2 linked regions of the Homo sapiens genome follow. The protein of the gene in region 1 interacts with the protein of each later gene in a pairwise test. Each region holds a gene or a part of one and is shown in the gene's direction. Other genes may lie near its edges.

The links. The genes of interacting proteins can lie anywhere in the genome.
Region 2: the proteins of PDK2 (region 1) and ISOC2 interact in a two-hybrid assay, tested with the Homo sapiens proteins (one large-scale study listed by IntAct).

Annotation. Positions count from the first base shown.
Region 1 is NC_000017.11:50,105,351-50,108,850, forward strand, and holds part of PDK2 (pyruvate dehydrogenase kinase, isozyme 2 isoform 1 precursor), read left to right. Parts: intron 1-20; coding exon 21-92; intron 93-534; coding exon 535-719; coding exon of another isoform or gene 720-802; exon of another isoform or gene 803-1,021; intron 1,022-1,443; coding exon 1,444-1,533; intron 1,534-1,725; coding exon 1,726-1,803; intron 1,804-2,805; coding exon 2,806-2,882; intron 2,883-2,968; coding exon 2,969-3,067; intron 3,068-3,261; coding exon 3,262-3,369; intron 3,370-3,500. UniProt on the Homo sapiens protein: Kinase that plays a key role in the regulation of glucose and fatty acid metabolism and homeostasis via phosphorylation of the pyruvate dehydrogenase subunits PDHA1 and PDHA2.
Region 2 is NC_000019.10:55,451,529-55,456,206, reverse strand, and holds the end of ISOC2 (isochorismatase domain-containing protein 2), read left to right. Parts: intron 1-361; coding exon 362-571; intron 572-828; coding exon of another isoform or gene 829-876; coding exon 877-947; intron 948-1,100; coding exon 1,101-1,218; intron 1,219-2,818; coding exon 2,819-2,899; 3' UTR 2,900-3,222; downstream 3,223-4,678.

The DNA of each region.
Region 1 (3,500 bases):
CCCCTCCCGCCCCCACACAGGTATGTCCAGAGCCTCCTGGACATCATGGAGTTCCTGGACAAGGATCCCGAGGACCATCGCACCCTGAGCCAGTGAGTGGGGGCCCTGGGTGGGGCAGGAAGGCAGGTGTTGGCCAGGGGCATCTGGGGTTGCAGCCCCTGGGGCAGAAGTACAGCAGGATGGAAGAAAAGACCCCTGCCTTCAGAAACATCCAGTCTGAGTGGGGAGACAGACTCTGCTTCAGGGAGCCCCAAGTTTGATGGGAGAGACATGGACTCCATTCTCACTGTTCCCTGAGCCCGGTGGGCAAGACCCAGGCCCTGCCATGGGGAGGATGAGAACTCTGGGCTTTCGAGTGGGAAGCCTGCCGGCAGGCAGCTAAAAGATCAGAGTGGGCTTTGGGAGGAGCAGGGAGGGCACTGGGAGTCCATCGGATTGGGAAGGGTAGAGCGGGTGAAGACACCGTGGAGAGGGGAGTCAGAAGCGGAGAAGAGTCTGGGGGTGTCCCATGTGAACATCTGCCCTGCCCCACAGGTTCACTGACGCCCTGGTCACCATCCGGAACCGGCACAACGACGTGGTGCCCACCATGGCACAAGGCGTGCTTGAGTACAAGGACACCTACGGCGATGACCCCGTCTCCAACCAGAACATCCAGTACTTCCTGGACCGCTTCTACCTCAGCCGCATCTCCATCCGCATGCTCATCAACCAGCACAGTGGGTGCCGGCCACAGCGGCGGGGAGCGGGCGGTGGGGGGGGCGGTGCTGGGGCCCAGGGCCGGGCTGCTGAGGGGACCTAGACCACTCTTCAGAACCCCACAAAGGGAGTCTTTGAATAGTTACTCCAGTAACTATGGAGTTAATGGCTCCAACATGGAAAAATAAAATTTTTCTTTCTCATTGATTTTCCATTTCAAAACGTTTTGTTTTCAGTGTTTGCAAAATGTAAAATTATGTCACATCTTTAAAAGAATGTTTAATTTAGTATTTATAAAAACTCTCATTATGTTCAAAAACAATTTGTTGTTTAGAGTTTCTTATTCCAGGAGGATTCACTATGATTTTTGAGAAGTTGTAGCCAGTCATAAATTAAACAAGTTCCTCATGCTCAAATAATTTCCAAAGCAAGGTGGTAAGAGTTCTCTTAGAATGTTATAGTCAAAGAAAAGAATAAATGCAATGTGGAGATGTGATGTGGGGAGAGACCTCTGAAAAGACGTCTGTTTCAGGTTTGCAAAGGTTTAAAAACGGCCTAAGCCAGGGCTGGAGGGGTCAGGGGTCAGGGAAGGGAGGACAGAAGCGGGGGAGTGGGGCAGCTTTAGGACTGGAGCCTACAGAGGCATTGGAGGTGAAAGTAGAAAGAGGAGGAAAGCCCGGGGGAAGAGGGAGCGCTGGGACAGACTGCAGCCCAGCCAACAGCATCCTCCCTTCCTGCCTGCAGCCCTCATCTTTGATGGCAGCACCAACCCAGCCCATCCCAAACACATCGGCAGCATCGACCCCAACTGCAACGTCTCTGAGGTGGTCAAAGGTGAGCCATTCCCACGGTGCCTGGCCCGCAGAGAAGCCCCGGGGACCCCTCCAAGCTTACCTGGCCAGAGGGTGACTCGTTCCTCAGTAAGGGGTGCCATGGATTTAATGCTGGTGGTCCCCAGTATCAATGTCAGGAGGACTGCCTGCTGGGTGGGCCACCCATGCCCTGAATGACCCCATCTTCTCTCAGATGCCTACGACATGGCTAAGCTCCTGTGTGACAAGTATTACATGGCCTCACCTGACCTGGAGATCCAGGAGATCAATGGTGAGTGAGCGGGGCTGTGTATGTGTCTGTCTTGGGGCTGGGGACGTGGCAGGGCAAGGTGAGACGGGGAGTCAGGAGATGGACTGTTTTCTAGACAGGGGAGAAGCAGAGTTATTATATTATTAATTCATTTGATAAATATTTGGGCTGGGCACAGTGGCTCACACCTGTAATCTCAGCACTTTGGGAAGCTAAGGCAGGCCAATCACTTGAGGTCAGGAGTTTGAGACCGGCCTCGGCAACATGGTGAAACCCTGTCTCTACTAAAAATACAAAAATTAGCCGGGCATGATGGCACATGCTTATAATCCCAGCTACTTGGAAGGCTGAGACAGGAGAATCACTTGAACCCGGGAGGCTGAGACTGCCGTGAGCTGAGATGCTACCACTGCACTCCAGCCTGGGTGACAGAGCGAGACTTCATCTCAAACAAATAAGAAATTGAGTGAATGAATGAATGAAAGAGTAAGCAAGACAGAAATGGTCCCCATTCTCGTGGACCTTACATTTTTGGTGCTAGGGAGATTGCGGAATGGAGCCTTCAGCCAATTAACAAGTAAATAAACAAGACCATCTCAGATCATGACAAGTGATGGGAAGGAAATAAAATGGGGTAACTCAACAGGGGTAGGGAGGAGGGGCATGTTAGATGGTGTATCAGCTTGGCTGCTTTCCTAGAACCCCAATACCAGTGGCTTACTTAAGAGGGAGGTTTCCCTCTCGCCAGCCCCTTGCTGGACAGGTCAGGGCTGGCTCCCCACCCCTGATTCAGTTCTAGCCTGGAGGAAGGGAACAAGGGTGTGGAAAGCAGGGCCCAAGAATTGAATGCATCACTTCCATGAGTCACCAGCTACCCCAGCTCAAGGGAGGCTGGGGATTTAGTCTCTCGCTGGGCAGCCATGTACTCAGAACTTTGTGGGAGGGGGTGCCTCCTTTGGGTAAGGTGGTTGAGCAGTGACCTCCTGACGGTTTCCTGACCCTTGGTCTTGACTTGCCCTGTAGCAGCCAACTCCAAACAGCCGATTCACATGGTCTACGTCCCCTCCCACCTCTACCACATGCTCTTTGAGCTCTTCAAGGTGAGGAGGCTGGGAGCCGGTGCTTTGCGGGGAGCGTGAGTAGGGCTGGCTTCTCCCATGCATCTCTTACCTCTGCCCCTCCGCAGAATGCCATGAGGGCGACTGTGGAAAGCCATGAGTCCAGCCTCATTCTCCCACCCATCAAGGTCATGGTGGCCTTGGGTGAGGAAGATCTGTCCATCAAGGTATGTGACCCTTTGACCTTGGGGACCAGGGAGCAGTAGTGGGGGCTTCCCTCCTGCCAGGAGACGGGCTTTCCTTTTCTCCTACATGGTGGGCAGATCCTGGGGGTGGGGAAGACCATGAGAAGGTCAGGGGTATTGGGCGGGGTGGGGAAAATGAGCTGTAAAGAATCCCTGACACATCCCATCTCTCCCAGATGAGTGACCGAGGTGGGGGTGTTCCCTTGAGGAAGATTGAGCGACTCTTCAGCTACATGTACTCCACAGCACCCACCCCCCAGCCTGGCACCGGGGGAACGCCGCTGGTGAGATGGCTTCACCCCAGCCCCTCCCACCTCCTGAGGGAGGCTTCTCTCCTCACTCACTTCCTTATCTCCCTGCTCACTCAGCTTCTGTGTGGCCGTCTGTGACAGTCACCTGTCTTGAATCTGGGCCC
Region 2 (4,678 bases), on another chromosome or scaffold:
AGCCCTCCACCCTCAGATCCAGGATCCAGGCTCAGCCCTCCACCCTCAGACCCAGGATCCAGGCTCAGCCCTCCACCCTCAGACCCAGGCGTCCAGGCCCAACTCCTCTTCCTTCAGACCCAGGGATCCAGGCCCACTTCCTCTTCCCTCAGACGCAGGAGTCCAGGCCCAGCTCCTCCTCCCTCAGACTCAGGAGTCCAGGCATAGCCCCTCCTCCCTCACACCCAGGAGTCCAGACCCCCAGCCCCTCCTCCCTCAGACCCAGGAGTCCAGGCCCAGCCCCTCCTCCCTCAGACCCAGGAGTCCAGGCCCAGCCCCTCCTCCCTCAGACCCTGACCTTTCTTCCCCATCACTGGCACAGGTGGCCCGGCTGCTTGAGGTGCCAGTCATGCTGACGGAGCAGTACCCACAAGGCCTGGGCCCCACGGTGCCCGAGCTGGGGACTGAGGGCCTTCGGCCGCTGGCCAAGACCTGCTTCAGCATGGTGCCTGCCCTGCAGCAGGAGCTGGACAGTCGGCCCCAGCTGCGCTCTGTGCTGCTCTGTGGCATTGAGGCACAGGCCTGCATCTTGGTGAGATGCTGACTGACCCCAGGGGTCCCTCGTTCTAACCTGGGACCCCCATCCTAAATAGAACCTCCTTCCCTGACCAGAAACCTCCACTTCCCTGCAGGACCCCCATCCTGACCTGGGCCCTCTCTCCTCACCTGTGGGCCCCATCCTATCTTGGATCCCCTCCTGACCTGGGGGCCCCTTCCTCTGATCCGAGCCTCCCTCCTCCCCATTCTGGGCCCCTAATTCTGACTCACCATCCCCAATTCCTTACCCAGGACCCCCGTTCTTATCCGGGGTTGGCCCTGACCTCTCTCTACCCACAGAACACGACCCTGGACCTCCTAGACCGGGGGCTGCAGGTCCATGTGGTGGTGGACGCCTGCTCCTCACGCAGGTGAGAGGGCCCCTGCCTGGGTGGGTGCACGTGGGGGCCATCAGGGGCTCCCAGGAAGGGCCACAGGCGGCATTCCCACCAGGGTGCCTGCGTGTCTGGGTGTCCAGACTGCGGCGTCCACACCAACCTTCCCTCCCTCCCTCCCACTCACAGCCAGGTGGACCGGCTGGTGGCTCTGGCCCGCATGAGACAGAGTGGTGCCTTCCTCTCCACCAGCGAAGGGCTCATTCTGCAGCTTGTGGGCGATGCCGTCCACCCCCAGTTCAAGGAGGTAATGCCCGCCTGGCCGCCCCCACCTCCCCTGCATCTGTCAAAGGTCTTGTCTTTGGGCTCTGAGAATACATCTCGGCACCAGCAGGCTGCCGCCTCCAGGGGGAGCCAGGTTCTTGGAGGGGAGGCTGCTGGTCACTGTCACTGCCATAAATCCATGAAAGGAGCCCACAGATGGACCATAAGGGCCACAGAGAACAATAAAATGGGGGAGGCAATCCAGAGGGTCAGGGCACAGAGGAGGGGGTTTGTATTGGAGGGTCTGGGGGGCATCCTGGAGCAGGTGACTTTAGAATGAACTGAAGGAGGGAGTGACCAGGCGGACACTGGGGAAGAACAGGTCAGCAGAGACCCTCTAGATAGAAGCCCCTTGACCCGTCCACACCCATCTCCAACTCTCCATCTCCTCCGCCTCTGCCCCTTCCGGCCCGGGTGCCCCTCCTCCAGTTTCTCAGACTCCACTGGCCACCCTGCTACCGGGGTCAGCCAGGTACTGGGCCCCCCTGCTTCAAGCCATTGGCCCTCAGGATGCTGGAGAGGCCCCAGACCTTGACATTCCCAGGCCCTCCCAGGTCTGCTCCTTACCTTCCTTCTAGTTCAGCTCTGTGGGACATTCACCGAGCACCCACTCTGTGCCAGCCACTGTGGTGAGCCCTGGAGTCTGCAGCAATCCATGTTCAGTGACACATTGTGACCCCCAGCTGGGGCAGGAGTTGCAGAGGGATGAGCAAGAGTGGCAGAGGTGGCCCTGAATTCTGAGCTGCCGGGGAAGGGGGCATCAGGCACTCACAGTGTTCCCAGGGGAGGGGGACTGAGCTTTCTTTGAGGAGCTGTAGCAGGCCAGGGTGAGCACCACGCGGGAGGAGCCAGCAGCCTGTCTTCACGCAGGAGTCAGAGCCCAGAGGTTTGAGATTTCAGCCACGGGCAGCCATCAGGGTTTGATGCAGGGGAGCTGGCCATATCAGATCGGCAGTTTACAAAGTTCTTTCTGGCCCTGTGTGACCAGTGGATTAGGGAGTGTGGCATAGAGGGGAGGAGGGAGACCTGTCAGTAAGGAGGTTAATTTGGGCGCCCAGGCAAGCGGTGATGAGGCAGGGGGGATGCAGGCTTTTTTGTTGTTGTTGTTGTTTATTTATTTATTTATTTATTTTATTTTCTGGAGATAAACTTGCTGGGACTTGCTGATGGATGAAATGCGGTTGGTTGCTCATGTCTATCTAAGAGGCAGTTAGATAGATGAGTCGAGTTCAGGGGCAAAGTCCAGGCTGGATTTGTGAGCTGAGGGCCCAGAAGAGGGATGGGAGAAATGAGGTTACTTAAGAAGAGGAAGGTGTAGACAGGAAGCCCCAGCACAGAGCTGTCCACCCTTAGTGGTCCAAGCCCGCAAAGCACACCAAGATGGCAGGCAGTGAGGAGCTCAACCAGTCACGTGTAATGAAAGGGAGGCCCCAGGAAAAGTCTTGAGAAGAGGGAGTGTTGTCTTGGGCAGCTGCTAGCCAGAAGGTCCGAGAGATGAAGACGGAGAGGTGTCCCTCAGATTTGTCATCCATGGAGATCGGGACCCTAGACGCTTCCTGACCCATCGCCCCCTGCCCTTACAGATCCAGAAACTCATCAAGGAGCCCGCCCCAGACAGCGGACTGCTGGGCCTCTTCCAAGGCCAGAACTCCCTCCTCCACTGAACTCCAACCCTGCCTTGAGGGAAGACCACCCTCCTGTCACCCGGACCTCAGTGGAAGCCCGTTCCCCCCATCCCTGGATCCCAAGAGTGGTGCGATCCACCAGGAGTGCCGCCCCCTTGTGGGGGGGGCAGGGTGCTGCCTTCCCATTGGACAGCTGCTCCCGGAAATGCAAATGAGACTCCTGGAAACTGGGTGGGAATTGGCTGAGCCAAGATGGAGGCGGGGCTCGGCCCCGGGCCACTTCACGGGGCGGGAAGGGGAGGGGAAGAAGAGTCTCAGACTGTGGGACACGGACTCGCAGAATAAACATATATGTGGCTGTGGACCAAACCATTCTTGGGTTGGGGGGGATCCCGGGGGCGACTGGGGGCTGCAGGAGGGAGAAAGCGGGGTCCCCAGCAGGTGGGGGGGGGGAGGTGCCTCTTCTCGGCGCGAGGCAAAGGCGAGGGCTGGCGGCTGACACATCTGCACGGACGCGGCGCATCTGCTCGGAGGAGAACTGCGGCCGGGGTCGCCCCCAGCCGGCGCGCGCACGCCCAGCCCAGCTGCCGGCAGACACGCGCTCCGCCGCCGCCTCCGGCCGCCCCCCACGCCGCCACCCCCGGCTCCCCAAGGGTCCCGCATCCGGAAAGCGAGGTGAGCGAGACCGCACCCAGGTGCGGAAGGGAAACTGAGGCAAGGGGACATGGAGACGGGAGGAAGGAAGACACAGCCATGTGGATGGGTGGATGGATGGATGGAAGGATGGATGGACGGATGGAAGGAAGGGCTGAAAGCATTGTAGTCCCGGCTCCCCCAGACGCAGGAGTTCCGGGACCCACATGGGGGCTCCCAGAATTCTGCAGATCTAGGAGTTGGAATCTGCAGACCCCCAGGGAGAGCTCCTCCGTTCCAGATTTGCAGCCCTTGCCTCTTCCCCAACCTTGGAGACCTGAGAGGCCACCCCTGAGTCCTCAGAGACACCGGCGTCAGAGCTGTCAGTCAGCCCGCCCCGCGTTGGGCAATCGGAGCCCCCACCGCCGACCCTGGGAGCCCAGACCCCTCCCAGAAGGTCCGGTCCCCTGGCCCCCAGCGTCGGAGCGCCCAGCATCCCTCTCCCCAGGGATCTAGGAGGAGCCCCTGGGACCGGGCGGCGGCGCCCCCGGCCCCCGCCTTCCGGATCCAGGTGTCCCCCCTCCTCACCCCCCAAGCCCGAAGCCTCGCGTCTCCGAGGCCCCGCGCGCGTCGCCATGGCAACGAGAGTCTATTTTGCGCTGGGAACACACAGCTCCCGCCGCAGCGCCCCCCCACCCCACCAACCCGGGCCTGAATGGGAGTGGGGGACCCGGGAGGGGGCTCGGGGGGCCGGGTCGGGGGCGAGTGGAGACACAGACACTCAGACAGAGATCAGACGACAGCAAACCTGGGACAGAGAAAGAGACGTGGAGCCAGGAAGGAGAGACAAGCGGGATGTGGAGACAGAGGGGTGACGGAGACCGGGCGGGGGAAGGAGGGAAATGGAGGCGCGCAGGGAACTGAGGCTCGGAGCTGGGGACAGCCCGGGACACAGGCGCCGGGACGGAGAGAGACGCGGAGAGAGACGCCGAGATGCGAGGAGACCCGCAGCGACAGACGAGGGCTGAGACCCCCGCTAGAGACAGAGACGGGCGGGGGAGGCGGGGGTCCGGGAGGAGGCGTGGACGGGGCGCCCCGGGACGCGAAGATGCAGAGACCCAGAGACAAGCACGCGGGCCGGGCGGCGCAGGGATCTGGGCGGGGGCGCCGGGACCGGCCGCCGCC